Regions from separate parts of the Homo sapiens genome. Here all the other regions are linked to region 2. The links come from fine-mapping of genetic effects on gene expression. A gene starts in region 2. Each other region holds a variant in brackets. All regions are shown on one strand. Distances are from middle to middle.

Region 1 (6,036 bases), 200 kb before region 2:
TGTCACCAAACTCATAAAGCCTTTTCACTGTCCTGTATGTTACCACTTAATGACAAACTGTTTAACGTTCAAACCAAACATAAAAGTATGTAAGTCCCCTCTCCCCACCAAGATCTACCGTCTGTCTTGGGGACGGGGGTCCTGCCACTCCCTCTGGGCCCCAGGGCACCCAGTGCTGTCCTGAGCCAAGGGGTCTGGCAAATGCCTGCTGCCACCAGGCAAGGAACAGAAAGAACAGTGAGAGGACCGGCTCAAGGTCAGGGTGAATCTGTTCCTCTCTGTGGAGAGTGGGGCGCATGTTTTGTTTTGTGTGTCCGGGGGAGGTTTAGGAAGTCACCTATTAGAGAAGGAGCCCCCTTTTCCAGGGAGTCCCTTCAGGAGACTGAGCAGTGTGAGTGGAAAGCCCTCTGGAAGCCCCGGGCTGGCACTTGGGAGGCAGCTCTGGGTGGAAGCAGGAGGAGAGGGTTAGGACCCGAAACTTAAAATGTAAAAGGCCCTCACAACAAAGTCCCAAACTCTTGAAAAATAGAGGCCAGGTGCAGTGGCTCATGCCTATAATCTCAGCATTTCAGGAGGCTGAAGTGGGTGGACCACCTGAGGTTAGGAGTTCAAGACCAGACTGGCCAACATGGCAAAACCCCATCTCTACTAAAAATACAAATATTAGCTAGGCGTAGTGGCGCGCGCCTGTAGTCCCAGCCACTCCAGAGGCTGAGGCAGGAGAATCGCTTGAACCCAAGAGGCGGAGGTTGCAGTGAGCTGAGATTGTGCCACTGCATTCCATTCCAGCCTGGGTGACAGAGTGAGACTCTGTCTCAAAAAAAAAGAAAAAAAAGAAAAGTAGAATATTTTCCCCCAAAGGTCTTGAGAAGAAAACCCTGCTTTGAGGTGGGGTGGGGAGGAAGGAGAGGGAAGAGGAAGAGTGGGAAGGTCCTGATGTGGTTTAGCAGCTCTTCAGAGATGGGGGTGTGTCAGCAGGCAGGACCACAAAAGGGCTGCCGGCCCATCCGGACCCTTCTCAGGGCCAGGCTCCAGCTGCTTGGCACTGAGAAATAGAGACAGTAGCCAGGGCTCGGGGAGGCCTGCCCGGGGCCTCTCAGGGGGATCTGCAGGGGCAGAGCAAAGAAGCCTGTGTGCTATTTTGTGTGTAGTGTGGGGCACTGCCTGGGGCCTTAGACCCCAGAGTCATATCCTTCAGTGGTTCCTGCAGCAACAAAGTCTCCAGCAGGGGCTCGTCCTGGTCCCACAATGCACCTAGGACAGGCTATCTCCTCTCCTGAGAGTCAAGAGGGAATGTTCTCATCCTCCTCTCCCAGCCCCTTTCCCCACTGGACACAGGGCCCCTTCAGTGGCACTTCCCGGGGGCTGTGCCCCTGCTTCCTGTAGGCATGTGCAGGGACCTGATGGGGCAGAGCTGAATAGGATGTGGTGGGGGGCGTTTTAGGTTCAAAAACCTGTGCCACCCCCCACATCCTCATGACCTGTGACAGCCCTGCAGAGAAACCCCTCTGGGGGGCTGGGGTCTTCGTGTGTAAAGGAAGGGGCCAGCCACAGAGATCTCTAAAGCCTCCTCCATGGACAATGCTGAAAAGTAGCTATGTCCATCCCTGAGCAGGGCATGATCAAAACTAGCCCTGGCCAGGTGCGGTGGCTCATGCCTGTAGCCCCGGCACTTTGGGAGGCTGAGGGAGAAGGATCACTTGAGCCCAGGAGTTTGAGACCACCTAGGGCAACATGGCAAGACCCTGTCTCTATTAAAAAAAAAAAAATTGGCCAGATATGGTGACATATGCCTGTAGTCTCAGCTACATGGCGAGATTGCTTGAGCCCAGGAGTTCAAGGCTGCAGTGAGCTAGGACTGCACCACTGCACTCCAGCCTGGGTGACACAGCAAGATCCTATCTCACAAAACACAACACAACAAAATGAGCCCAAACTGCACCCATGCAGGCATTGGGCAAAGGCCCAGAGGAAACAGGTACTCTGTGGTGCCTATCTAGGCACCACTGATCAAAACCACAAACGCGCATGTTCCTGGACCCAGTAATTCCATTTCTGGGGCCATAGACTTATTTGTGTAATTGCTAAGTGTCGACTGTACTAAGTGTCGGCTTATTCATTACCATGGTGCTTTTAAAAGCAGAGCCTGGAGACGCAGAGGCTCGTCAAGAAGAGGTTAGATAAATCATGGCCCATCTGCAGGCACAGGCAGCCACCATTCCTGTCGGAACATGACAGGGATCCTCGTTCCTTTCATCTCCAAGATGGAGCGGTAAGTGAAGAAAGCCAACTGCAGAGCCATCTGTATCGAATGATACCATTTGTAGTTTTGAAAAAAGGAAAGAAAGTATCTATATTCTGCCTGTCTGATTTTGCCTAGACTATCTCTGGCAGGATCTGGAAACACTGGCTGTCTCCAGGGAAGGGAACAACTGGCAGGGAGGACTTTCATCATATCCCCTTTTTGATTTTTCAAACTTTCTATCATGAGAATGGATTATCCATTCAGAAAATTACTTCTTTTCAGCCACTGCTTTGCTTTTGAGCCAAGAGGCTGGCGAAGGCCATATTTAAGCACTGACCTGCTTCCTGCCCTGCCTGCCCCGACGCGCCCCCCAGCTCTGTGCAGGGGTGTCTCCCACGAGGACCAGGACCAGGACCTCTGTCCTGTCTCCCACTAGAATCAGGGCCATGGCTGTGCCTTCCTGAGCTGTCCTCTCCCTTGCTCTTTCTCTTCGAGAAGTTTTTCCACTTCCAACATTCTTCAGGGATGAAGCTTAGTCACTGTTGTGCAAGGGATGTTCACAGCCCATGAAAACTCCTTGCTAGTTCTTTGGGTACAGAACGTTCATCTTTCAAGTAAACAGTTTAAAGAGAATGCAACTGTGACCAAGCCCCTCCCCACCCCCTGCCGAGAGCTCTTAAGAGCACAAACCACGGTGTCCGCTCCTCCCATGGCCCTGTCCCCTTGCAGGCCACCCCCGTGTGAGTACTGGAATGATCCTAACCCAGTCCCAAAGGAGGTGAGAGAGGTGGCGGGATGCAGGAGTGAACCTCTGGGGCCGAGGAGATGAGAAGGTGGACTGTTCATTTGGGGGTGGGAACACCTCATTTCTGGTGGGGCTGAATGATTCTCTATCATTGCCATCTTTCCAAGTTCAGAAGCTGCTCCCATCTTTCCACCTGGCCTTCCTGTTCCTTCCAGAGCTGGTGACTCCTGTGGGGAAAACAGGTG[G/T]CACTCTGGACTACAGAGGGGGAAGGGAAACTTTTAGAGGAAGGGACAGGTGAAATGCTGAGACTCACAGTGTGTGCATTAGGGATATGTGTGTAGTTAGGGGCATGGGGAGTGAACCCTCCTGGAACCTAACATATGCCCTATCTGTTGACTGATACCCGAAATGTTTTTAAGAGGGGGTAGAGTCTTGCAGCATCAACACTTTTTTTTTGTTTTTTGCACGATGCCACCCTGTTTACAGAGGGCTTACACACTCTGGCCCCCTCTGCCCCTCACAGATGAAGAAACTGGTAGCTGGAGAAAGTTCAGCTACTTATCCATGGTCCTTTAGCGAATAAATGGCAGGGACCACACCTCAGCTCCACTGTCCTGACTCTATAACCCAGACACTTTCTGCCACAATCAAACTGGGGTATCACCGAGAGAAAGAACATGAAGACTTAAAATTACATTTTAGCTGTATGAATTACTCTCCCAGAAGTGGGGCTTCACGGGGCCAACAGGAAGGAGAGCTTGGATGACACTGGGTGACTGCAGAGGGAAAGAAGAGGTGCCACAGAAGAGAGAAGGGCACAGAGACGGAGTGAGCTTGGGACCCCATGTGCTTCCTAAGGTGGGACAGCCCCATGTAGGGAGGGACAGGCTTCCCCCAAAGAGGGTTTTCTTCCATGCCAGCCAGGAAGGGTAGACCAACAAAGAAGTGACTTCTACTCAGGTTTATGCTATTCAATCAGTAGAGAAACAACTGTCTTATGAGTCAGGTAAGGTGGGTAGTAAGAATGATTCCTAAGCTTTTTTTCTTTTCAATGTTGGTATCACTATTCATAAATAAAAGGGAAAATGGGCAATGCTGACACAATCCCTCATTACTTTTTTTGAGACAAGGTCTCACTCTGTGGCCCAGGCTGGGGTACAATGGTATGATCACGGCTCACTGCAGCCTCAAACTCCTGGGCTCAAGTGATCCTCCCACCTCAGTCTCCTGAGTAGCCGGAACTCCAGGCAAATACCATTACACCAGCTAATTTTTTTATTTTTGTAGAGATGGCATCTTACTATGTTGCCCAGGCTGGTCTTGAACTCCTGGTATCAAGTCACCTCCTGCCTCAGCCTCCCAAAGTGCTGGGAATATAGGTGTGAACCGCCATGCCTGGCCCCCCATTACTTTTAAATAGACCAATGTATTTCTTAATCATAAGGTCAACTGCTGAACTCAACCTTGGGTCTGATCAGTAAATGAATAGTTCCTGGACAGCTTCCACGGGCCAAGTATGCTGGGGGTGTTGAGGAAGGAGGTGCTAAGATGGATTAGAGCAAGTCCCTGTAGTCTGTAGGAGAAATGGGGACAAAACCAAAAAATCAGCCCCAACACCACCATGCAATAAAGTCGAGAACCAGGAAAGCAGGGGGGAGCTCAGGGAAGAGGAGAGGGCCTGAGGGTGGGGGTGGGACGGTGGCTCAGAAACCCCAGGAAAGAGCTGGGCCCCGATCCTGGAGGAGGACACAGGTCTGCCCCGGCCCAGGGGCCTCTCCTAAGGGCCCAGGCAGAACTGGGCCATGGCCAAAGTCACCCAAGAAGGCTCTGGCCAAAGGACAGACAGGTGCCCCCTTTCTGTTCCTTCTGAGAAGACATCTCCTCCTTTTTCCTGCTCCTTAAGGACTTTGTTTAGGACGCCGCCAGCCTCTGCAGTGAACAATGCCTTTGATTCTCCCAGGGCGGCAGCCAGGCCCAGTGAACAGCCCAGCGAGGGAACAGAAACTGCTCCTGGCAGCCACACAGAACACCACGAAAGGGGGTCCAGACACTGGGGAGCCATGGGCTGGTGACTTCACAGGGCCTGGCCCTGCTGGCAGGCGCTGGAGAGGAGGAGGAGGAGAACAGAGGTGCCACCAAAGGGAACTGAGCCCTGCTGGAACGGAATAGCTGTGCTGGGTGGAAACAGAGGCCTGGCCCTCAGAAGCCCCAAGCTCTAGGTCTGGTTTTACCACTAAGTTGCCATGGGCTCTGGGACAAATCCACCCCTTGCCTTGGTAAAAATAAACCAGGTAGACCAGATGCCTATCTGGTGCAATCCGGCCCCTCCACTGCGTAAATGGAATGAGCTAGAGCCTCATTCCTGCCTGAGGAACGGAACGACAAGAAGGAAGTAATGTATTCTGCTGACTGTTGTTACAAGAGCCATGAAGTGAGAAGAGCAACATTTCCATTGACACTGGAGGGAGGCTTTGCTTATACAGGGTTTTGAAACCTCCTACCACTCATCAGAGTGAGGGGCCAGGTGTTGTTCCCTACTTTGGAGGGAGGATGGCGAGCGCCGTGAGGGGGAACGGTGGCCCAGGGAGGTGCCCAACGAAAGTGCCACAGCCAGAGAGGGACAGGAGTACCTGTGCTGAGTAGCTGTAGCACACAGAGGGATGCAACCAGCAGGCAGGCGGAGACCCTGGGCGGCGCGAGACCCTGTGTGACACAAGTTCAGGCCAGGCAGGTGACCCAGAACCCAGCCTCTGATGTCTGCTTAGGACTCTGTTTTCTCAAGGAGCAAACCCACTGCTTCAATGTTTTGGCCCTTTCTCAGGTGCCCTCTGGCCTGGCTCCTACACCCTCTCCCCGCACGGCCCCTATTGCCCGCAGGTTTTACCTTCCACCCCTCATTCCAGAGCCCTACCCTCCAGGGCCGCTGGAGCTGAGTGCCCAGCCCTCTGACTCCAGAATGGCTCTGGGCAGTGCAGGCAACTGCAGGAGGCTGGGGGAGCCAGGGAATAGAGGGGCAGTATCCTCAGGGACCCTGCCTGCCATGCCT
Region 2 (6,036 bases):
CACGCCCACACATCACTCACACCCTGCATTTGGAACCAGCCTCAGCATGTGGCTGCCACACAAAATGGCCCAACCACTGGACAATGGCATGTTCTTGTTTCTCTCTATATATTTTTTTAAAAAACTAGGTGTCTGATGTATATGTATATGTATATGATGTATATGTATATGTATATGATGTATATGTATAAGTATATGTATATGATGTATATGTATATGATGTATATGTATGTATATGTATATGTATATGATGTATATGTATATGTATATGATGTATATGTATATGATGTATATGTATATGTATATGATGTATATGTATATATGTATATGTATATGATGTATATGTATATGATGTATATGTATATGTATATGTATATGATGTATATGTATATGTATATGATGTATATGTATATGATGTATATGTATATGTATATGATGTATATGTATATGTATATGATATATATGTATATGTATATGATGTATATGTATATGTATATGATGTATATGTATATGATGTATATGTATATGTATATGATGTATATGTATATGTATATGATGTATATGTATATGATGTATATGTATATGTATATGATGTATATGTATATGTATATGATGTATATGTATATGTATATGATGTATATGTATATGTATATGATGTATATGTATATGATGTATATGTATATGATGTATATGTATATGTATATGATGTATATGTATATGTATATGTATATGTATAAGCCATACATTTATAGGACACTTTACACTTGTCAAGAGTTTTCCCGGGATGGGTGTGATGGCTCACGCCTGTAATCCCAGCACTTTGAGAGGTCAAGGTGGGCGGGTCACTCGAGCCCAGCTCATGTGGACCAGCTTTGGGCAACATGGTAAAACCTCATGTCTACAAAAAAAATAAATAAATTAGATGGGTGTGGTGGCACATGCCTGTAGTCCCAGTTACTCAGGAGGCTGAGGTGGGAGGATCACTTGAGCCTGGGGAGGTTGAGGCTGCAGTGAGCCATGATTGCACCACTGCATTCCCACCTGGGGAGCAGAGTGACACCCTGACTCAAAACAAAAAAAACAATAAAAAAGAGTTTTCCCATGAATTACTTTATTTCAATATCCGTATAAAGCAGGAAAAATGGGTATTATTTCCTGCATTTGACAAATGGGAGAAACAGTAGTTACACGGTTAGCTCAAGTGATCACTGTTTAAGAGGTTTGTGGCAGCAACATCTAACTTTTAACTCACGAACATGGTTTTAAATGTCTTACATGAGAGATGTAAACAAGAATGTTTCATTTTCAAATAGAACACTTATTCCTGCATAATCGAGTCACCACCGTGGGGGCCACACAGCAGCCAGGGGTCCAAGTTTCCAGCCCCAGAGCTTTCCAGCCAGGGAGGGCTGGCCCAGGGCCCCTGTGGGGCTACTTGGCATCAGGTGTCTGGAGACCCGCCCCTGGACTCCACCCTCTTCACCCAAGCGTTAGGCACGTGTGGGCCGGAGTTTACACAGGAGGACCTTAGCGGGGCGTCTAAAAGAAGGGTGGCTCAGCAAACACGGGGCAGTGCGCCCTGGGATTCACAGTGGGAAGTGAGTGGCCTGCCTCGGCCATGCCAGCTGCGCCTGACCCTGTCGGGAAGGATTAGCTTTAATGAGGGGTCCGGACAGCCCATTCACTGCGCACTCCCACCCTGCCCCGGGAGAGCAAAATAACTTTCTCTACGGAGCACTCTGGTGTGTGTGTGTGTGTGTGTGTGTGTGTGTGTGTGTGTGTGTGTGTGTGTGTACACAAACATTTACTTGGTTGGCTGAGGCGGAGGGTGTGACCCAGTGGGCCACACCTCCCACCGCCCTACCCCGCTACGTGGAGGCGAGGAACAGTGGCCGCGGGCTACCGGGGCGCCTTCCGAAAAGAGAACCACTACGCGGCCCGCCGCCCCTCTGGCTGGACAAAGTGAAGCCGCAGGCAGATCCGAGTCGCCAATGTCCTCCCGGGCGGCTGGCGCGGACGGGGCTGAAGTTCAATGCAGCCTGCACGGATTAGGGAGCTCCGAGCCCCCAAATACCACAGAGACCCAAAGTACACTCCCGGGGCGGGGGAAGGGAACGGCGGCAGAGGAGACCCCCGCTCCAGGCCCAGAAACGCCCGGAGAGAAACTGGAGCGGAGGGGGTGCATTGGAAGACGCAGCTACACAGCTCCCCCCAACCCCCGCCCCGCTGCTTTCCCCACCCACCGCCCCTCCCCTCTCCTCCCTCCCCTCCCCTCTCTCCGTCTCCAGCAGCCGAGCGCGGGCTCCACCTCCCCGGAGCGCAGTCCACACCGTCCCTTTTCAGCAAAACAACACAACGCACCGCCCCCCGCACCCGCACCCGGCTGGATACCGGGCTACGCCCAGCCGCCCACCCGCCGCGCCCGGCGCCCCCTCTAGTCTGCAGCCGCCCAGCCCCCGCCCCAGGCGGAGCCCCAGCCCTGGCTGCACGCGGGCAGAGAGAGAGATTGAGCCCCGGCTCCGCCAGCCCAGCTCGGGCCCTGTCCCTCTACCCTTTCCCCAAGCCGCCCGAAGTGACAGGAGGGGCACGCACGGCGCGCGCGGGGCGTCCAGCGTTAACCGCTTCGGCGCCGGGGACGGGAGCGACAGGAGGGCTGGGGAGCAGGGGACCGAGTGCTGGGACTCACCGGAATGTGCACGCGCAGCGAACGCCTCTTCTGGCTGGCATTTTTCTTGCCGCCGCTCCCGCCGGGGCTGGAAACATCTTTTTTCTTCTTGGTGTCCATAACCGCGCTTCCCATAACTCTAACCAGAAGTTGATTCTGCGAAACTCCTCGGGGGTTCGGTCCCCTCCTTCCCTCCCCCGGCCGCTGCCTTCGGACTGGAGCCGCGCGCTCTGTTACACCCTGAAGCCACCTCGTGGGGACTTCCGCGGAGAGGGAGGGTGAGCAGGGAACTCGCGCGGCCGCCGCCGCCGCCGAAGCGCCGAATTCAAGCGTCCTTTCCTACGGAACCCTCGTAGGCAAATCAGTCAAAGCCCGTCCCGGTTCTGGTGTCTCCCCGGGTTACTCGTGGCTGAGGTCTCCCGCTGGGTGACAAAGTTTTCTTCCTTTTGCAAAGCTAAGAAACATTTTCCACCCTCTCGGCTCCTCCCACAGATTCCCAGAGGTAATCTGAAAGGCAGGTGCAATTAAAACCAGCAATTTGGAAAACAAGCCTCCTATGCCTGTGCCCAAGTGGGGAATCTGGAACCAGTAAGCCCGTTCGTGCATAAATGTAATCCTCGGCCGCAGAATAAACCAGCTCGGAGCCTGCAGCTGGGTCCGTCCTCCTTTCTGGGCGAGAGGGAGGGCGGCGGGGGAAGAGGAGGTGCAAGGCGAGCCCTCTGCGCAATTAGGCTACGGGCGGCCGCTGGCAGAAGTTCTGGCGGCGGCGCTCGCGGCCCTGCGCGCCGGAGGGGGCGCCCGGAGTCCAGCGGGCCAAGAAGGGCAGGGCGCCCGCTCCTCGCCCCCCGCCGCGCCGCGGCCCCAGGGGACCGCAAGGGGACAGTGAGGGGCCGGGCCTGGCACCGACGCAAGCTCGGGGAGCGCGGGTGGTGGGAGGCGGCGCGTGTTGAACAGGAAGTGCGCGGCGTGCAGCGCCACCGTCCCGCTCCCCGTCGCCCCACGCCGCCCTCGTCGCCGCGCCCAGACCCCTGCGGCGGCCGCAGCCGCTTGGGACTCGCTGCGAGCTGGTTTCGGATCCATCCCGCCTCCCGGCGTCTCACTGTGTGCCCTACCCTTTGAAACACGCCCCCGCGCCCGCCCTGCCGTAGACCAGGCAGCGAGGAAGCCCACAGTCTCCGGGGGCGCTGCGCGCGAAGTAGCACGTGCTTCTCGAAACACCGCAGCCCCCGGGTCCCGCCCCGCCCGGCGCGCGCACTCGAACCCGCCCAGAGAGCGGTGCGTGGCGCTGGGTGCGAGCAGGGTCTAGCCACCCCCACCCTCACCCCACCCCACCCCACCCTGCTTTTTTCAGGTTCATCAAGGTTTGCGCAGTGGATCCGCGGTAAGTGCGTGTCCCCACGCCGCGGGAAACGTGGGGCTCCTGAGACTGCGGAAAGAATTGGGAGAAGGGGAGGGCTCGAAGACCCGGGCGAGGGTTCCCGGTGCGGCCCAGGTCCTTTAGAGCCCCGGGTGGGCATCCAGTACCGCCTGCTGCCGAGGGCCCTAGAGGGGTTGGGGGAGGGGGCTGGTGTGTCCCCCACCCCCAGATGCGCCCCAGGATGGCGCGACCTCGGCTCCCTGGTGGAAAGTAGGGGGAGTGCTGGCTTGGGGGTCGCTTCCCCTCCTGCTCTAGTTTCTGAGGATGTGATGACCCCAAAGGTCATTGGCGCTCCCAGAATGCTGACGTCAGCTCAGCCGCTCCGAGTAATCAGTAATGCAGGGAGGCCACCCGCAGAAAGAACGCGACAGGGGTCGCTTTGGGGACACCATAGGGCCTTTACTCCTTTTGAGGTGCGTGCTTTCGCAGGACTCCCTCCCCAGAGGAGGAGGCATGATCAGCCCACCCAAAGGATCATCTCTTAGGAAGCAGGCGTGCGCCCACGCAGGGAGAAGCATCCTTCCTTTCAGCTGCTTGCCGGGTGGCTTTTCCAACCCGAGTTCCAGCAGCTTGCACAAAATCCTTACAGCTTGGGTGGTTCCCTGGCTCATAGGGGTGGGTTTATATTCTTTCTCCTTCTCCTCTGCTCTCTGGTCCAGAATGAAGCCAGCCTGGAAGATCCCCAGTCTCGAGACAGAGCCTGACAGGGGCAGATGCACTGGAAGGACCCTGTCTGGGTTTAGCAACCAAGCAGCCATCCTGGCCCCACAGGTGTGGGACTTCTGGGTCTTCTCCTGGCTGGCTTCTTGCTAGAGGATTTCAAGAGACCCAGCAAGACTGTATTGTCCCACTGAATGCTCAAGATATTGGTTAGAAGTAGAAAAGGGGAGGGGGTAGTATTTAGCCTCTGTCCCCACTAAAAATTATTCCCAATTGTCATTTGTGTCATCTGTTTAGCTTACAGTTTTAATCCTTGTCAAAATGATCATTTGCCAGGGTGCATAAAACACCCTATTTGATGAGAACTGGTTTTAAAGGAAAATGGGGCCATCAGAAGGAAGCCGGTTGGTGTGAAGAGACGTCTGGGAAGAGCCCCTGGCGAGGGCCCTCATTCCACTGGGTGACCCAGAAGGAGAAAACCGCGATGGCGCTTCTCATTTGAAATGTTTTCTTTATGGACAGTGTTTAGCAATTGTTATAATGTGTACTTTTGTTGATTGATCTGTATACATATGTAAAATAATTTGTTCTCTGAGTTAATTTTGTTGGAACAAAGACTTTAGTGCTTCCTACATTAAAACATTTTACTGTATTGCCTGCATTTTAAGAGCCTTTTTTTAATTTTTAATTTTTTTGGTCCTTGTGATATGACGAGGTATAAATTCTGGGTTTTGTCCAGGGTTCCTGGCTTAGCACTCTCGTCGCCCTCATCACAGTCTCTTGTTATAATGTTGGGGCGCTTTAGGCCTCAGACACCCCAGGAAACAATCTCCTCTGAACTTCCCCTGCCCTCCTTCACCACCTCACCAGCCCAAGGCAGGACTCTAATCCTCCCTCATCTTTCTGATTGTGGGACTTAAGACCCTCTATTCAGAAGGGGTCCTGCCCCATTCCCGAGAGGAAGAAATCCTGCACGGAAAGGCCAATAACGGTCGGAATAGGCAGGACTTGTTTGGGTGTCCACACTTACTCAGTCACTATTGGATCATACCTTTTTGTTCGATCACATTTCTGCATGGTCGTCAATCGTGTCTGTCCAATGAAGTCTCCTTAAGAAGCCCAAGAGGTCTGGGTTTGGGGGCTTCTGGATCCCTGGACATGTGGAGGCTGCTGGAAGACGGGGTGCCTGGGAAGGGCATGGAAACTCCGTGCCTGTTCTCCCTGTACATCCCATCATCTGTGTTCTTGGTAATATGCGTTATAATAAACCAGTAAATGTACATTTCCCTGAGTT
Region 3 (6,036 bases), 320 kb before region 2:
CAGTCATAACAAACATCATGATTTTACATTTCAATACACAAGAAAAAAAATAGACATCTTCCCGGCACTTGGCTCCCGCCTGACGGCAACGTCTCCTCCACACTTTGAGAGACCTCAGCTTTTAAAACCCAGCAGCGGCTATTTCAGAAGTCATGTCCTTTCCAGATCCAAACTTAAATAATGAGAAATTTGCCATTTCAAAATAACTGAGAGTTTATTCATGGATGTGGTGAAGTTTACTCCACCAAAAGATGTGTAAAAAAATTGCATGAAAGTAAAAATAAATAAAGCTGTTGTAAAGCAGCCTCGTTGACACGGTAGCCCAGAACAAAACACTTACGTGTAAAAGTGTCATTACAATTTTAAAGTAATTATTTATATTCAAATTACAACTTTTTGACAAATCTAAAGAAAACAAACTGATTTGGTAAAAGGTTCAAAGACTTCCACATTCAAGCTCGGTGTTGTTTCACACGCGTGCGCCCCGGCTGCGGCGGTGACATATTGCTGTATTCGGACATAAGGCACTGTGATCTGAACATACCGTGCACTCACCTTATGCCACATCACCTGTTCCATACCAGTGAATTCTTTGAAATGAAAAATAATGAAAACTTCAGGACACAGTGCACTTTAATGACATACAGCATTTAAAATCCTTCAGACAAAGGTCTGAAAACAGTCTTTTAATGCAAGCCTGAATCTTCAAGCACATAAAATCTTTCTTTTTTAAGCTTAATTTCAACATCACTGGAAGAAATACCTATTGTTAAACCCTGATATACATTCTTAACCACTTGCAGCCAGTGTTCATGAGGCAAAACGTGACCCAGAGACTTTGTTCAAGTTCTCCTCCTAGGGCGTCTACATTCACGGCGGTCACTCCGTTTCTGTCTCCTTTTGTTTGGCACCTGTCAGTGGATGGAAGATGAAAGTTTCAAAGCTCATGGTAACAGCAGGGTTCTCTACCCCAGGGGTTTCTACCTGTGTCTGGCAGTGCCTTAGGAGGATGATCCAGAGGCTTCGGAGGAGGGCGATGTGGGAAGGAGCAGGTGGCCCAAGCTCCCATCTCCCACCCAATCGTTCGGGCAGCTTGGATCCACGTAACATCTTGTCATTCTAAATATGTCAGATTTAACTTGGAAAACAAAAAAAAAGAATTCCACTCTTAAAAAATTTTACTAAGAAATATGTAGGTATGTTTTAGTGAAGGTGTGAAGTATTTCAGTTGTGCACTCTTACAAATATGTATTAAAAAAAGGTTTAGGCCGGGCGCGGTGGCTCACATCTGTAATCCCAGCACTTTGGGAGGCCGAGGCGGGCGGATCACCTGAGATCAGGAGTTCAAGACCAGCCTGGCCAACATGGTGAAACCCTGTCTCTACTAAAAATACAAAAATTAGCTGGGCGTAGTGGCGGGCGCCTGTAATCCCAGCTACTTGGGAGACTGAGGCAGGAGAATCGCTTGAATCCGGGAGGTGGAGGTTGCAGTGAGCCGAGAGATCATGCCATTGCACTCCAGCCTGGTTGACAAGAGTGAAACTCCGTCTCAAATAAAAAAAAAAAAAACAAAAAAACAAAAAAAAAACCTTTATAAATATTCTGAAGGATAATTGCACCTAACAAGTATCTGGCTAGGACATTCCACAGTGGATTGGCAGGGAGAGCTACTATTTTTCTCATCACAGGAGCTTCTCTCCTAATTTTTCACCAGACGCTAGACCCCTGAAAGAGATCGGCAATCTATTAGAGCGTGTGGCTGAAACACCGTAGCTCCTGGCATCAGACTGCCCACACACTGGATGCACGCACACATGGGTTCATTTGGACAGTCTAAGTTTGACAATGAACTGTTGCTAAAAACTTTTTTGAGAAAGAGAAAGTGTTATTGTGTTGAACCAGTACCCCTCTGGGGAACGGTGGCCATTGCCCGATGAAAAGAATCACCACTAGTACCTTCTAATCGAGTAACAGCAGACACTTCATCAAACTGCCTCTTACTGACTATTCCATGGACAACCACCTAACAGTGCAGGTCCCGGGCACTGCGCCTCATTGCACACACATGGCTTTTGTGCACGGCTTTCAGCTCTTTTCATAGCAACATAGGAGGGAGACGGGCCTGTATCAGCCGGCTCCTTCTCTACTGAAGAAATTGGGGCTGAAGGAGGTGAAGCGACTTGCTTACATTCAGACAGCGCTCGGGTGGGACAGCTGGGACTTGGCCTCACGGTGGGGGCCTCCTCACTTGCGATTGTTGATCAGATGCAGGCGCTCCCTGAGTTCCACTCCAAAAGTTCACTTGTAATCCAGTTATTAGTAACACGGAATGTTTTCCTCAACAAATCGTGTTGTATACACTGTATCATAAGGAATTCCAACCCAGCTACCCCCATCTTCACGGCACAATTTCTATGGTAACATACATTCCAAATTCCAGCTGGAAATAGATTCCTCTCTGCACCAGCAGTGATGGGAGGGGCATTGCAATGACTTAGAATTTTTGAAATACCAAATCTGGATGGAAATTTGAACTCATCCAGCACAACCGTTCATTCTTATGGTTTGAGATATCAAGAAACAGAGAGGATGAATCGCTTGACTTGTTTACTCTTTTTGTAATGCCCAAAGAGACAGACAAGAGCTGACATTCAGCCTGACCCGCTGGGCAGACTGTGTCCCGTGGTCCAGGGCTGGAAACGGGGCATCTTTTTCTGAAGGTGCCAAGCTATATACCTGTGGGGATAAATCTGCCCAGAGAAGAGGCCTTTTCTAGTTAGCACAAATGTGCTGTGCAGTTATGCCTGCCTGGAAATTTATATGAATTTAATGATGGTCTGGATGAGCCTGGCTCCCTCTGTTCAATGTTGCCTGTGAGATTCCTCCACTGTTGAATGCAGCTGTACTGTTCGTTTTCAATCCTGTATCGTATTCCATCGAATGAATGTGACACAATTTATCCATTCTTCTTTTCAAAGATATTTGGATTATTCCCAGTTTTATGGCATTAACATTCGTTTAGTTCTTAATGTTTCATGATTATAGAGACTATTGTGAGATTCAGGTCTTTTAAACACTTGAAGTTTGCAAGTGACTGCACCAGGCCCCATTTCTAGAGTTTCTGATTCAGTGGATATGGGACGGGGCCCCAACATGAACATTTCATTTTCTAGTAAATTCCAGGTGGTGGTGATGATGCCTGGCCTGAGGACCACCTCGGAAAAATCACTGCTGTACTGGAATTTCTCTTGGTGTTCTCATTTAGCGAATAAGACATGTTTCTTGCAGGTGGTGAAGATTCCTTTAGGGTAGGTATTTTTGGGTTACAGACTTAATTGTAAAAACTAGTCTTAACTGAAATTTCTGAACTAAAGAGAAATCAATACTGTAGCACACACACCGTTTAATATTGGATTCTGAGAGTTCAAAGGGCATGCTGTTTGCTCCCACATCGGGTCCATGTGGCCCTGACAAAGGCTGGGTTGTTCATATTTGACTGGGGCTGGGGAGGTGGAGGGATGGGAAGAGGAGGAGGGAAGGGAGGGCTGGCAGTTTTAAGAACTCT[C/G]AAGCCCACCTCTTACTACTGAGTGTGTGAAATGAGAGGAAGGCCAGCTCCTCTTGTCTAAAGCCCTCTCCCGTTCTCTCTGCTCCTCACTGTCTGAGACTCTGAAGGCTTGCTCAAAGTGAATCTGTCAAAAAATGAGTTTAACCACACTCTATCTGAAAGTGAATGTGATTTCTGTACAATATTAATGAATAAAAGTTTGTGTTTAGGTATTCTGTTTTATCTACTCAAAATATAAGTTTTTTTTCTCTTTAAGGAAAGATGAAGGTATCAAATAGAAGCCAGTGACGTTCCCTCTATGTTTCTGGTCACTAGTTCTCTCACAAAGCACAATTGAAGAGGTCTTTTCAGTGGAAAAGGTTATGATGAACATGGCAATGGCTCCCAAGTCATTTAGGGGGCCACTGGACCTTGATAGGATGCTCTTAACTTCGAATACGTTCTATACACTTTCCTCACTCACGCAGAACACTTAAACTTCCCAACTGAAGAGAAAACGAAAATGGTTTCAAAGTAATATACTCAAAGCCTTGATCTGTAGGTGGGTGGAGAAATGATGGTTTAAATGCTGCACTTCCTGTTCTACCTCCCACCCTTCCTAGACGCCGATGGCAAAGGTCAGAAACCAGCATTTTACCTGCTGGTGTGAGGATCAGGGCTTGCAGAATGTCCGACAGGGAAATAATACCCACAATACTATCTGCTTCATTTACCACCACCAGCCGATGGACCTGCAAAGAGAAAAGCAGGACACGTGAAAATTAACATTTAAAAAAGGTTTAAAATGGACATGAGAAATAATGTCCTGTCATGTTTTTATATGATCAACACATCCCTCCAGCCTGGGGAATAGCAGTGAGACATCATCTCTACAAAAACATTAGACAGTGGCTGGGTGTGCTGGTGTGCACCTGTGGTCCCAGTTACTTGGTGGGAGGATTGCTTGAGCCTGGGAAGTGGAGGTTGCAGTGGGCCAAGATCGCACCAGTGCACTCTAGCTTGGGTGACAGAGTGAGATCCTGTCTCAGAAAAAGAAAAAAGCAACACACACACACACATCCCATAAATGAATAAATGAGGGAAAGTAGCCACAGACAGACCCATACGATGACCTTAGGCTCTAATGTTCAATGTGTTACTGTCTGATTACCTGGAAGACCTACTCCGTATTAAAAAGTCACAGCCCTGGTGAAAAACAGGGACACAGGCATGAGAAGGAAAGAGGGGAAAGCTATCTATCTCCTGTCTCTAATGATACTGATTTGTCTCTAATTCAAGCTGATTTGCTTGCTTACTTTTAAGAAAAATGAGCTAGCTATGCCCTGCTGAGTTTTCAATTTTCAAAATATTAATATAGAAAAGATACAACTCAAACACGAAACACAACGTAGCTATCATACATTGTTAAACATAACTGTTTTAATTTCTAAAAGTTGTATATCAGTTTCTAATAACTATCAGGTACTTGTCTTATTAATACATGGGAGAGAAGTCCAGATGATGACAGAAACGAAGAAACAAGGTCGCAGCTCTTACAAGGGTTTTATTTTCTGCAGTGTCTTTTCTCTGTGAAGTTCATATATTAAGAATCGCATCCAAGAGGATAAATGAGCTATAATGAAGTGGGATAGACTACGTCCATCTCTAGTTTTCTACTCTGAAATCTCTGATGAGTGACGGCAGAGCGTTTTGAGGTGTTTCTGTAACAGGCCTTTCACCCGCAGGAAGGGAGCGGCGTTGCTATTCTCTTAAAAGCTTCATGATGGCCGGGCGCGATGGCTCACGCCTGTAATCCCAGCACTTTGGGAGGCCGAGGCGGGCGGATCACCTGAGGTCAGGAGTTCAAGACCAGCCTGACCAATATGGTGAAACCCTGTCTCTACTAAAAATACAAAAATTAGCCAGAAGTGCTGGTGGGCACCTGTAGTCCCAGCTACTCAGGAGGCTGAGACAGGAGAATTGCTTGAACCTGGGAGGTGGAGGTTGCAGTGAGCTGAGATCGTGCCACTGCACTCCAGCCTGGGCGACAGAGCGAGACTGTGTCTTAAAAAAAAAAAAAAAAAGGCTTTGGAACCTGGAGCCGGGTGCGGTGGCTCACGCCTGTAATCCCAGCACTTTGGGAGGCTGAGGTGGGCGGATCACAAGATCAAGTGCTCGAGACCAGCCTGACCAACATGGTGAAACCCCGTCTCTACCAAAACCACAAAAATTAGCTGGGCGTGGTGGTGCATTCCTGTAATCCCAGCTACTCAGGAGGCTGAAGCAGGAGAATCGCTTGAACCTGGGAGGCGGAGGTTGTAGTGAGCTGAGATTGCGCCACTGCACTCCAGCCTGGGCGACAGAGTGAGACTTTGTCTCAAAAAAAAAAAAAAAAAAAAAAAAAAAAAGGCTTCAGAACCTGGGCCACGGCAGCTCTGTGCCGGCTGCGCCCTGGGAGACCCTCTCTGTATTGAACAGTGATACCCCTGATA
Region 4 (6,036 bases), 260 kb before region 2:
AGCCTGGCCAACATGGCGAAACCCCATCTCTACTAAAAGTACAAAAATTAGCCGGGCATGGTGGTGGGTGCCTGTAATCCCAGCTACTCAGGAGCCTGAGGCAGGAGAATCGCTTGAACCGAGGAGGCGGAGGCTGCAGTCAGCCGAGATCATGCCACTGCACTCTAGCCTGGGCAATAAGAGCAAGACTCCGTCTCAAAATAAAATAAAATAAAATAAAATAGGCCGGGTGTGGTGGTGGCTCATGCCTGTAATCCCAGCACTTTGGGAGGCCGAAGCAGGTGGGTCATTTGAGGTCGGGAGTTTGAAACCAGCCTGGTCAACATGGTGAAACCCCGTCTCTACTAAAAATACAAAAATCAGCCAGGCATGGTGGTGGGCACCTGTAATCCCAGCTACTTGGGAGGCTGAGGCAGGAGAATTGCTTGAACCTAGGAGGCGGGGTTTGCAGTGAGCTGAGATCGCACCATTGCACTCTAGCCTGGACGACAGAGAGAGATTCCGTCTCAAAAAATAAAATAAAATAAAAACCCCTAAGTTTTTCTAAAGTGCCTAGAAACATGAACAGAAACAAAGGCAAATCTTAAACATAATTTTACAGGATTTACAATTATAAGGTGGCAGAATAAATGAAGTCTGTTACTTTTTTTCCCCTTTCCATGCTTTTTGCATTTGGTTTTGTGTGTGGGGGCAAATGTGTACACGGGCGAGAAAATGCACACACTCTTCTAAATAAGGGGGCAGTAAAAGAGTTATTAGGAAAGAAGAAAAAGCACAGGCAGGATCAAGGCAGAGTTTGCCCAATTAGTTCAAAGTGAGTTGCAATCGATGCCTAAGGAAAGTCACGGACAAAGCAATGACCTTGAAATTGTATGTGGCTCCTGTCAGAATTTTAAAATGGTTTTGCATAGAATTCTAGGAACTATTAATACATAATTAAAGCATCTACCACAGCCAATGATTCCTTTCTCAGGGAAGAAAACCCAGTGATGAAGCTGGAGAACGGTGATGGCCAAGGAGAGCTCACAGGGATGAAGCAGCAAGCACCAGCCAGGCCAGAAGAGTGAGACCCACCTTGGCAGGTACAGTGGAGCATCCATAATCCAAAAACGTAAAATCCCAAATGCTCCAAAATGCAAAACTTTCCGAGTGCCAACACAATGCCATAAGTTACCCTGAACACATCGGTTTTTCACTGTATTTATCAGTAGCATAGAAATACAGAGTCAGGAACGATGGTGATGCCAGACTGTCCACAAGGGTGGCTGAGACAGTGGCACCTTTGCTTTCTGATGGTTCAATCTGTACAAACTTTGTTTCATGCACAAAGTTATTAAAAAATTGTATAAAATAACTTCAGACTATGTATATAAGGTATATATGAAACATGAATTTCGTGTTTAAAATTGAGTCCTCATCCCCAAGATATCTCATTATGTATATGCAAATATTCCAAAATCTGAAAAAAATCAGAAAACCGGCTAGACGCGGTGGCTCATGCCTGTGAAATCCTAGCACTTTGGAGGGGCCGAGGTGGGAGGATCACCTGAGGTCAGGAGTTCAAGACCAGCCTGGCCAACATGGCGAAACCCCATCTCTACTAAAAATACAAAAATTAGCTGGGCATGGTGGCGCATGCCTGTAATCCCAGCTACTCGGGAGGCTGAGGCAGGAGAATCACTTGAATCCAGGAGGCAGAGGTTGCAGTGAGCCGAGATCGCGCCACTGTACTCTAGCCTGGGTGACAGAGCGAGACTCCGTCTCAAAAATAAAAAATAAAAATAAAAATAAAAATAAATAAATAAATCAGAAAACCTAAACATTTCCAGTTCCACGCATTTGGGAGACTCAACCTGCACCAGGAATTATACAGCTGCTGCCCCCGCTGGCTGTCATGAGGTATACTTTTAGCTACTTAAAGAAGTTTCCTCATATCCCTGGTTTATTAACGATTTTTAAAAAGGAACATATGTTGAATTTTATTAATTGCTATTTCAGTATCTACTGAGATGACTACCAGTTTCTCTCCTTTATCAACAACATTAATTCCTTAGGCAATTTCTTCTTTTTCTTTCTCTCTCTCATTCTTTCTTTCTTTCTTTAGAGATAGGATCACATTATGTTGCCCAGACTGGCCTCAAACTCCTGGGCTCAAGAGATCCTCCTACCATGGCCTCCCAAGAAGCTGGGACTAGATTTCTCAATAGATGGCTTTGTTTTTTTGTTTTGTTTTTTTTTTGAGATAAGGTCTCACTCTGTTGCCCAGGCTAGAGTGCAGTGGCATGATCACTGCTCACTGCAACCTCAAATGGCCAGGCTCAAGCAATCCTCCTGTCTCAGCCTCCTGAGTGGCTGGGACTACAGGCATCCGCTACCATACCTGGCTAATTTTTTTTATTGTTTGTAGAGATGGGAGTCTCGCTATGTTGTCCAGGCTGGTCTTGAACTCCTGGCTTCAAGTGATCCTTCCACCTTGGCCTCCCAAAGTGTTGGGATTACAGGTGTTAGCCACCACATCCAGCTCCTTAATAGATTAAAAAAATTTTTTTTTAATTAAAAAAATTAAAGATGGGGTTTTGTCATGTTGCCCAGGTTGGTCTCGAACTCCTGGGCTCAAGTGATTCACCCACCTTGGCTTCCCAAAGGCCTGGGATTACCCGATCCACCCATCTTGACTTCCCAAAGGGCTGGGATTACCTGAGCCGCCCACCTTGGCCTCCCAAAGGCCTGGGATTACCGGCAAGAGCTACCTTGCCCAGCCTAGATTTCTTAATCAACAGAAGAATACTTGCATTTCTAAGATAAACCTTACTTGACCACAATATATTCGGCTTTTAATCCTGCATAGCTAGTGTTTGTTTAGGAGCTTTGGCCACATTTTAAATGTAAGACTGATCGCTTGTTTTCTTCTTTGTGTGCTATCTTCCTCTGGCTTTGATTTCAAGATCAAGCTAGCCTTACGGAAGGAGCTGGGAAGTGCTCCATATTTTCCTATGTTCTAAAATAATTTAAATAAGGCATTAACTGTTCCTGAAAAGTTTTACAGAATTCATCCATAAACAGGCTGAATAGAATGGTATGCTCTTCTGTAGCAGAAGAGGAATAAGACCTTTCATTATCTTATTTAAAAAATAGCTTTGTTGGGGCTGGGT[G/A]CAATAGCTCACGCCTGTAATCTCAGCACTTCGGGAGGCTGATGTGGAAGGATGGCTTGAGCCTAGGAGTTGCAGACCAACCTGGGTGACAGAGTGAGACCCTGTCACAAAACAAAACAAAACAAAACAAAAAACCAACAAAAATAGTTTGAGATATAATTCACATTCACAGGTTCGCCAATTTAAAGTGTACCATCTCTGTTGCCCAGGCTGGAGTGCAGTGGTGTGATCCTGGCTCTCTGCCACCTCCACCTCCCAGGCTCAAGCAATCCTCCTATCTCAGCCTCCCAAGTAGTTGGGACCACAGGCGTGCACCACCACACCCGGATAGTTTTTGTATTTTTTTTGTTGAGATGGGGTTTCGCCATGGTGCCCAGGCTGGTCTTGAACTGCTGGGCTCAAGGGATCCTCCCACTTCAGTCTCCCGAAGTGCTGGGATTACAGGCGTGAACCACCATGCCCGGCCGGTGTGCTTTGATCAACGTTACTTTTAAAGATCTCTGCATTTATAGTTAAGAAGCTTCTCTTCTTTCTAAAGCTTTGCATTTTCTCCCATTTTTTCCTGAACAGACTTGACAAAGGTTTATCCACTTTACTGACTTATCCAAGAACTAAGTTTTTGTTTTTATTAAGCATGACTACCTTTGTAGTTGATTTCACTGATCTATGTCATTTCAGTAGACTTTAGGAGGGAAGAGAGGTAAGTGAATATATTCAGCAAACCGCTGAGTCACAAGAGTGGCAGAGCAATTTGGTGAATTCATTCTGATGAATTCAAGATGGGCACTTCATCCAAGTCCCCGCAAGTGTCCTGAAGTTTGAGACTCTGACAAAAGGCTATCCTAACTCACAATGAAACACTGGAGTTTCGCAGAGATTACACATACGTCCATAAATGTGTGCACCTCTTTGGGGTTTTGCAATATAATGGATCTTTCTGTTGTGCGTCCTCTGACAGTTTCTACTATGGCGTGCCATTGTTTTTACACTGTGTGACAGCACTGACAAGAATTACTACTGCAAATCAAAACACAAAAAAACCATTGGCAGAGCCATTACAATAAGTCACCAATAGAAGATGTCAGGTAGCAAGCCAGTGTTCACCAATGGGGACTACTCAAGGTACTCCCAGTTCAAATGGGAGGCAATGGAGAAGACAGAAGCATCTAGACCAACCCTAGGTCAGAATTGTTACTGCCTTTCTTGTGAGCTTGAACAAATTGATACCCTTGAGCCTGAATTTCTTCATTTGTAAAATGGTGACACACCATCTTTCCTGAGAGCATTTCTCAGGAACAGGGATAAGCACAAACATCCAATCGCAAAAGCTGCCAACTATATGTGGCATACATACCTGTGTCCACATGGGGCAAAGTCTGACAGTGCAGAAGAACAGAATCGCTGGAATCACTTTAAATTTTTGCTCGGTTTCTTCTTGTCTTCCTAGTCATCATCGCAGTTACTGCTGATGGAGACTGTACTACATCCCAGGCCCTCTAATGCAGCGGTCCCCATACTACATCCCAGGCCCTCTAATGCAGTGGTCCCCAACCTTTTTGGGAGGGACCAGTTTCATGGAAGACAATTTTTCCATGGATGGGGGAGCAGGGGGATGGTTTCAGCATGAAATTGTTCCACCTCAGATCATTTGGCATGAGTTAGAGTCTCATAAGGAAGGCTGGGCACGGTGGCTCACGCCTGTAATCCCAGCACTTTGGGAGGCTGAGGCAGGCAGATCACGAGGTCAGGAGTTTGAGACCAGCCTGGCCAACATGGTAAAACCCCGTCTCTACAAAAATACAAAAATTGGTTGGGCATGGTGGCAAGTGTCTGTAATCCCAGTTACTTGAGAGGCTGAGGCAGGAGAATCGCTGGAACCTGGGAGGTGGAGCTTGCAGTGAGCCGAGATTGCGCCACTGCACTCCAGCCTGGGCAACAGAGCAAGACTCTGTCTCAAAAAAAAAAAAAAAAAAAAAAAAAAAAGCTCATAAAGAGTGTGCAACCTAGATCCCTTGCTTGTGCAGTTCACAATAGGGTTCGCGCTCCTATGAGAATCTAATGCTGCTGTTGATCTGATAGGAGGCGGAGCTCGGGAGGTAATGCTCGCTCGCCTGCTGCTCACCTGCCGTGTGGGCCGATTCCTAACAGTAGTGGTCTGTGGCTAGGGGGTTGGGGACCCCTGCTCTAGTGGATATCATGCCCATGTTATTTAATCCACATATAATCCTCCTGGCTAGGTACTATTATTATTTCCAAGTTACATATGAAGAAACCAAAGCTTTAAGAAACTTACTAAAGTTCTCACAGTTATTAAGTAGAAGAAATGAGACTCTAAGGTGAATCTGACTCATGCTCTTAATTGCTATGGCTCTAATTACACATGCATTAAAAAAAGGGGGGTTACATCGTATGTATGTATAAGCTTCAAAGCTAGAGAAGTCAACGTGAAGACTGAGAGCCAAGGAAAGAGGGTAAATAAGCGTCTTACAATGCGCATGTGTGTACTGGGGAGGAGGTCTTGACGGAACAATGAAACATTCCACTTCCAAGAAAATGTGGAAAATGATTCATAAAATAACAACTTATTGCTAGCAACTTCCTGTCAGTTACAAATGACCAAAGTACAACCTAAAATAAAATGAATCAGTTAGCATGATGTTCAGAAACCTCATTGATGTTATATAAATTCAGATACATGGGAAACAGCTCCAAGTGGGACAGAAGGCAGCGTGTGTGTGTGTGTGTGTGTGTGTGTGTGTACATATATATATATTTTTTTTTTCAGATAAGGTCTTGCTCTGTTGCCCCAGCTAGAATGCAGTGATGCCCTCATGGTTCAGCACAGCCTCAACCTCCTGGACTCAGGAGGCATGGGACTCACCTC
Region 5 (6,036 bases), 180 kb before region 2:
GCCTGTGCTTCCTGGGATCATCGCTGGTATGGTTTAGGTGTTTTGTCCCCTCCGAATCTCATGTTGAAATGCGACCCCCGAGTTGAAGGTGGGCCTGGTGGGAGAAGTCTGGGTCATGGGGGCGAATGTCGTGGTGCTGTCCTCGTGGTAGTGAATGAGTTCTCGCTCTATGAGTTCACACGAGGCCTGGTTGTTTGAAGGAGACTTGCACCTCCTCCCTGTCTCTTGCCCTCTCACCATGTGACACCTCAGCTCCCCCTTTGCCTTCTGCCATGACTGGAAGCTTCCTGAGGCCTCGCCAGGAGCAGACACCAGCACCATGCTTCTCCTACAGCCTACAGAATTGTGAACTGAAATCAACCTCCTTTCTTCATAATTTGCCCAAACTCAGATATTTATAGTGACACAAATGGACTAACACAATCTCCCAAACCAACTCCCTGACCCTTGTCACCAGCTCTGCTTTTGAGGGAATCCACATTACAGGCAGGGGAATGGGTGCAATGGATACCAGCGTCAGCCCCTTGCAGACCTATCCAGATGCAAGGACTTGGCTCTTTGGACCACTCCAAGCCACCCTGAGATGCCACGTGGAACCCTAGGAAAACCCACCTCTGCAAGAAGGTCCTGAAATCAGGTAACTTCTCGCTACAGTGTAAATGACTGATAGGCTCAAACGGGCCGTGGGAGGGTTTCAGGACAGGGTACAGGAAATGACCTGCAAGTCTGCAGAGCCAGTCTGCAAACTCTGGGGAGCACCCCTCAATGCCCTTAGGCCACCTTTCCTTCTCTGACCTCTGTCCCCATCCCTGCCCCAAGTTGTGTCTCTTTGACACCTGGGATGTAAGCTGTGAAAGCTAAACTGCACTGTAGTTGGAGACTCTTGAGAAACCGAATGAACAATATTTCTGAAGATCTCCCACGAAGGTTGCCTCCCTCCCTGCGGTCAGGCTGCCTGCAGGCCTAGTCCCAGCAGATCTCCGGGAGATGCTGACTGCTGGCCGGATGCCTGTGTGGTTACGATCCGGTTACATCTCAGCCCCCTGCTGAGAAAGAGGCGCTAAGGTGGCCCTGGAGCCGTGAATTCACTGGGATTGAGATCATCTCGGCGACTTTATCATGAAGGCCAGCACAGGAGGCCCCTCCTTCCTGTTGGAGATGTTTAGTTTTATGATTAAGAAATGGCAAAGGGCCTTTCAGACTACTTTTGCTTTGAAATAAATCAGTGAATCAATGAGATGAGAAGTATTCACTGGGCACCGGCTGTACAGGGAAGAACTGGAAGTGGGATATGCAGTGCCTGGGCTTGGGGTAACAGAACCCAGCCTACGGGCCAGAAAGAAATGCATGAGCCATTAAGACAGTGCAGGAAGCATCTGATGGAGGACACGTCAATCTTTTCATCAATCATTGAAAGCAGGACGAGGAGGCTGGGACACAGCAAGGTGCTCAGGCCCTCAGAGGAGGCAGTGGGGAGGTTCTTGATATAGGCTGGTCTTTAAGAAGGACTGGGACTAAGATAAACTGGGGTACATAGCGGAGGAAGAAGGGAGTAGAGGGGCAGTGCTCTGCTGCCACAGGCGGCCGCAGATGGGTGCCCCCACATTGCAGAAACAGCCTCAACAGGAGCCTTGTGTACCTGCCAACATTTTGCTGCATACAAGATTAATGAAATAGTTCCACTGAAATCTGGTGATGGAGTTCTCGGCAATGTGGTTTTTGTCCTGTCATCTCATAGGAAACAGGTCTTTGAATAAGTCATTGCATCATTGCAAAATGATGTTTCCTCCCCAACAAGGGAAATCGGGGGTGACGTTTAGCAGCTCCTTCTGCAGCAGTGTTTTAAGTTGAGTGGCTAGAAAAGAAAGAGGCGTATTATACGCCGGGCTGTGTTCTGGGTGCTGGGGACAGTGAACACGACAGAGAAGAGCCCAGCCCTCGTGGAGCTCAGGTTTGTAGACTCTGGCTCCTTGGAGTATGGTCTGAGGACCAGCAGCCTGTTTGTTAGACACGCAGACCTCCAGGCCCCCACCCCAGACCTACGGAGCCTGAATCTGCCCTTTGACAAGACTCTTCAGTGACCGACAGACACGTCAGGGTGAGATACGCGGCTGTAGGCCAGGGGTTCCGAATTTTGGCAAGAATCAGGACCCCCTTTTTAACGCAGGCTTGTGAATCTGTGGATTTCTGAGCCCCACCCTCAGAGATTCAGATTTGGGAACTGGGATGGAGGTCCAGAAATTGGCTTTTCTGATGAGGTTCCAGGTAATGCCAGGCCTGCCGGTCTGGGGCTCACACCCTGAGAGCCACCTGCTGTAGGAGATCATCTGAGTTCTGGGAGAAGACTGGGGCTATCTCCGCCACGCGTCCCAGGCCCTGGAGAAGCTGACGGTAGCTTCCAGGCTTCCCCTTATGTGGCCAGGCCATAGTTCCCTTAACCTCCCACACCCATCCCCTCCACACGGGGGGAGCCTGGCCTTGTGCCGAACCCCAAATAATCCTCAGTGCTTGGCCTGCCCGTTTAGAGGTCAAACATCCATGCAGAACCCATCCAGCCTGCCCGGGAAATCCGAGCAGGGATCACACAGGATGTCCCAGGCATTTCCACACAGGCGAGACCACAGAGCATTATGCAGCCTTGATGTGCCAACTGAGTCATGCAATG[T/C]GCTGCACACACGAGCACCCAGCAGACGCCTGTCCTCTCCTCCCCTCAGCTGTCAGGCACAAGAGTCCACCCCCTTCCACCTCCCACTCCTCAGGGGCTGCCCCCCAGGGAAGCCCCACTGGAGCAGGCACCTGACCCAGACCTGAGGCCTGCGTCACTGGGCCGGGGGAGGAGGAGGTCTGAACAGAAACACTAAATTAGCCACCTTCTCCCTCCAGTCTCTACCTGTGCTGTCCAAGAGGCAGCCACTGGCCTCACATAGCTATTTCTTTATAAAATTCAAGTTCAGCTCCTTAGTTGCTGTTATGGGTTGAAATGTGTCTCCCCAAAAAGATACAATGAAAACCTCACCCTGGTACCTGTGCATGTGACCTTAGACATAGGGTCATTGCAGATATAATCAAGTTGAGATGAGGTCATACTAGGGTGGGTCCTCATCCAGTGGCCGGTGTCTTTATAAGGAGGAGGAAACGTGGACACAGATACACAGGGAGATGGAAGCTGAGATTGGAGCGGTGCATCTTTTTAAGCCAAAGAATAAGGATTGCCGGCCGGGCGTGGTGGCTCACACCTGTAATCCCAGCACTTTGGGAGGCCGAGACGGGCAGATCGAGAGGTCAGGAGATGGAGACCATCCTGGCTAACACGGTGAAACCCCATCTCTACTAAAAATACAAAAAATTAGCCGGCCTGGTGGTGGGCACCTGTAGTCCCCAGCTACTCGGGAGGCTGAGGCAGGAGAATGGCGTGAACCCGTGAAGCGGGGGTTGCAGTGAGCCGAGATTGCGCCACTGCACTCCAGCCTGGGCGACAGAGCGAGACTCTGTCTCAAAAAAAAAAAAAAAAGAATAAGGATTGCCGAGAACTGCCAGAGGCCAGGAGGCAGGTGGGGAGCAGGTTCTCCTTCAGGGCCTGCAGTAGAAACCAACCTTCCCACACCTTGACTTCAGCCTTCTGGCCGGCAGAACTGTGAGAGAGTCAGTTTCTGCTGTTTGAAGCCACCCGGTGTGTGGTGCTCTGTTGTGTATGGTAGCCCTGGGTGCTAATCCAGCTGCACTGTCCGTATTTCCAATGCTCAACAGCCAGATGTGGCTGGTGGCTACCAAGATGGACAGCATGGATACAGAACACTTCCCCCTGTGCGGGGAGTTCGATTGGAGGGTGGTGTTCTGCAGAATGCTTTCTAAGAAAGAAGCAAAGGTTAAAAGTTTAATTTTCAGAAAAAGTTGCTGGGGTAGCCCAGTTGCATCTTCCACATCCTTTACATCCCTAGTGCCGGTCCCCCAAAAGAGAGAGGAGGCCTCATCATCAAAGGGACATCAGTAGGCACACACTGACTCTCTTCCCTGACATGAGAAAGTCCACCTAGACATTCAGGCCGGAGCTTTCGTCCATGCTGACAGCAGACGGATGGGGATGCAGGTCCACACTGATCCTGAGAGTCCCACCCACAGAGGGAGCCCCCACGGCAGTCTTGCCAGGTCCCTGCCCACCCGCTTGCCTTCCTTCCCCTATCTCCTCTCCCCATCTGCCAGGAAGCCCATCAGGGCACTGCCAGGTCCGCTCTGTACACAGACAAATGCAACTTTGAAGTTTCACACTCACCAGTTGGCAATGCATTCCTTAGGATGGAGGCATTCATAGTCCCAAGAATCCCAAGTTAAAATACTCTCAGGAGAAACACCAAGTCCTGTTATTGGATAATAAGACTCTAGCATGAATTAATGATCAGAGTGAAGGCCTGGGGGGCACAGCCCCTAGGATAGCAAAGTTTTGGTTGAGGGGATGAGGTGATGGCAAGGAGGGCGAGGACCAGAGCCCAAAGGTCTCTCCTGGGAAGGGTCCAAGTTCAGGACTGTAGGTCTGGAATGCCAGAAGCTGGGGGTGATACCTCTCGCCTTCCAGTTCCGAGAACTGGAGCAAGTAGAGTGAATGTCAAACTGCCAAGGGCACGATTTTGCCTCTAAGCATCCGTCCATGTACTACTCACCTCTGCTCATCTCTCCAGGGACCCAGCCTCTATGCTGGGCTCCCTAACCTGCCTGCCCAGGGAGAAAAGGGAACACCTGGCAGAAGACACCTCTGCCAGCCCTTCAGCCTCTCACATTGCCTGCTGCTCAAATAGCTCATCTTTCTTCAAGGCCATGATGGCTTCTCTGACTCACTCATCAGCGCGCGCGAAGCAAAGAAGGAAAGAGGAAAAGCGCACCTTCTCCGTCACAGTGAATGGCACCCTGCAAAGGACTGCGGGTGCTCTAAGAAAGGAAATCTGTTTTCAGAGCTCCTGCAGCTGCTTTTCAATGTGTCTTCAGTTTATTTTACCAATGAGCAAATAAACTGGTGTTTCCCCTGCAGTGTCTTCTGCCCAGATAGCAGCGATTCTGCTCTCCGCTGTGGCCGGAGCACTGGATGGCTCCGTCAAGCCCTCAGTTGTCTTACTGATGAGAACAACTCAAGGAACTTCTCCCACATCATCTGGCCACTTGGGCTTTAAAAAATGTTTTATGGAGCATAATATAGAAAAGTGCACACATTGAGAGTGTACAGCTTGACAAATTTGCACAAAGTTCATGCATCCATGTAACCAGCACCCAGAGAAGGAAAGGAATGTTACTACCCACATGGCAGCCCCCTTCAATCTCCCTGCCAGGCACCACCTGCCTCCTCAGATAATCATCATCATTCTTTTTCTATTTAAAAAAATTTTTTTGGCTGGGCGCGGTGGCTTATGCCTGTAATCCCAGCACTTTGGGAGGCTGAGGTGAGTGGATCACAAGGTCAGGAGTTTGAGACCAGCCTAACCAACATGGTGAAACCCTGTCTTTACTGGAAAACACACACACACACACACACACACACACACACACACACACACACACACACACACACACACACACAAATTAGCTAGGCATGGTGGCAGGTGCCTGTAATCCCAGCTACTCAGGCGGCTGAGGCAGGAGAATCACTTGAACCTGGGGGGCGGAGGTTGCAGTGAGCCGAGATTGCGCCATTGCACTCCAGCCTGGATGACAGACCGAGACTCTGTCTCAAAAAAAAAAATGTGGGTACATAGTAGGTGTATATATTTATGGGGTACCTGAGCTGTTTTGAAAGAGGCATGCAATGTGAAATAAGCTGGTCACGGGGAATGGGATATCCATCCTCTCAAGCATTTATCCTTTGAGTTACAAACAATCCAATTACACTTTTTAAGTTATTTTAAAATATACAATTAAGTTATTATTCACTACAGTCACCCTACTGTGCTATCAAATAGTAGGTCTTATTCTTTCTAACTAATCTTCATGATTCTAGCATCATATGTTTTGCCTGGCTGTGTATTTTGTGACCCAGAGCTGCACATTTTGTAT

Which allele goes with the higher level. Positions count from the first base shown, and alleles are read on the strand shown. Sizes are in standard deviations (SD) of each study's normalised expression. Not every link is listed here.
For the expression in tibial artery of the gene that starts at base 3,295 in region 2, allele T in region 1 goes with a lower level than allele G (small effect, 0.12 SD a copy in GTEx).
In carriers of allele C in region 3, the expression in monocytes after interferon gamma of the gene that starts at base 3,295 in region 2 tends to be higher than with G alone (moderate effect, 0.44 SD a copy in Fairfax 2014).

What was found. PIP is the estimated chance that this variant, and not a neighbour inherited with it, causes the effect.
Region 1: its variant is the best candidate, but not a certain one, in a credible set for the expression of PRKAG2 in tibial artery (GTEx, PIP 0.62).
Region 3: its variant is the best candidate, but not a certain one, in a credible set for the expression of PRKAG2 in monocytes after interferon gamma (Fairfax 2014, PIP 0.71).
Region 4: its variant is the best candidate, but not a certain one, in a credible set for the expression of PRKAG2 in whole blood (INTERVAL, PIP 0.53).
Region 5: its variant is the best candidate, but not a certain one, in a credible set for the expression of PRKAG2 in nasal epithelium (TOPMed, PIP 0.63).

Annotation. Positions count from the first base shown.
Region 1 is chr7:151,678,147-151,684,182 of GRCh38, forward strand. All of the region lies in intron 3 of PRKAG2 (protein kinase AMP-activated non-catalytic subunit gamma 2), which reads right to left. Among named protein-coding and RNA genes, the nearest start is that of PRKAG2-AS2, 130 kb to the right of the region's middle. RefSeq lists enhancers at 2,121-2,788, 4,507-5,092, 5,093-5,676, 5,677-6,036. The variant G/T (reference allele first, on the strand shown) is at 3,236.
Region 2 is chr7:151,873,821-151,879,856 of GRCh38, forward strand. PRKAG2 (protein kinase AMP-activated non-catalytic subunit gamma 2) reads right to left here and starts at 3,295. Exons shown (of 16, transcript NM_016203.4): 1 at 2,687-3,295. The coding sequence starts at 2,800. PRKAG2-AS1 (PRKAG2 antisense RNA 1) reads left to right here and starts at 3,222. Exons shown (of 3, transcript NR_038926.1): 1 at 3,222-3,320; 2 at 4,017-4,046; 3 at 4,742-5,403. RefSeq lists an enhancer at 2,038-2,157 and silencers at 2,348-2,487, 2,548-2,597, 3,360-3,789.
Region 3 is chr7:151,556,322-151,562,357 of GRCh38, forward strand. PRKAG2 (protein kinase AMP-activated non-catalytic subunit gamma 2) reads right to left here. Exons shown (of 16, transcript NM_016203.4): 15 at 4,203-4,296; 16 at 1-911. The coding sequence ends at 880. Among named protein-coding and RNA genes, the nearest start is that of RHEB, 39 kb to the left of the region's middle. RefSeq lists an enhancer at 3,322-3,616. The variant C/G (reference allele first, on the strand shown) is at 3,566.
Region 4 is chr7:151,618,257-151,624,292 of GRCh38, forward strand. The region is part of intron 5 of PRKAG2 (protein kinase AMP-activated non-catalytic subunit gamma 2); the gene reads right to left. Among named protein-coding and RNA genes, the nearest start is that of RHEB, 100 kb to the left of the region's middle. The variant G/A (reference allele first, on the strand shown) is at 3,153.
Region 5 is chr7:151,698,348-151,704,383 of GRCh38, forward strand. All of the region lies in intron 3 of PRKAG2 (protein kinase AMP-activated non-catalytic subunit gamma 2), which reads right to left. Among named protein-coding and RNA genes, the nearest start is that of PRKAG2-AS2, 100 kb to the right of the region's middle. The variant T/C (reference allele first, on the strand shown) is at 2,666.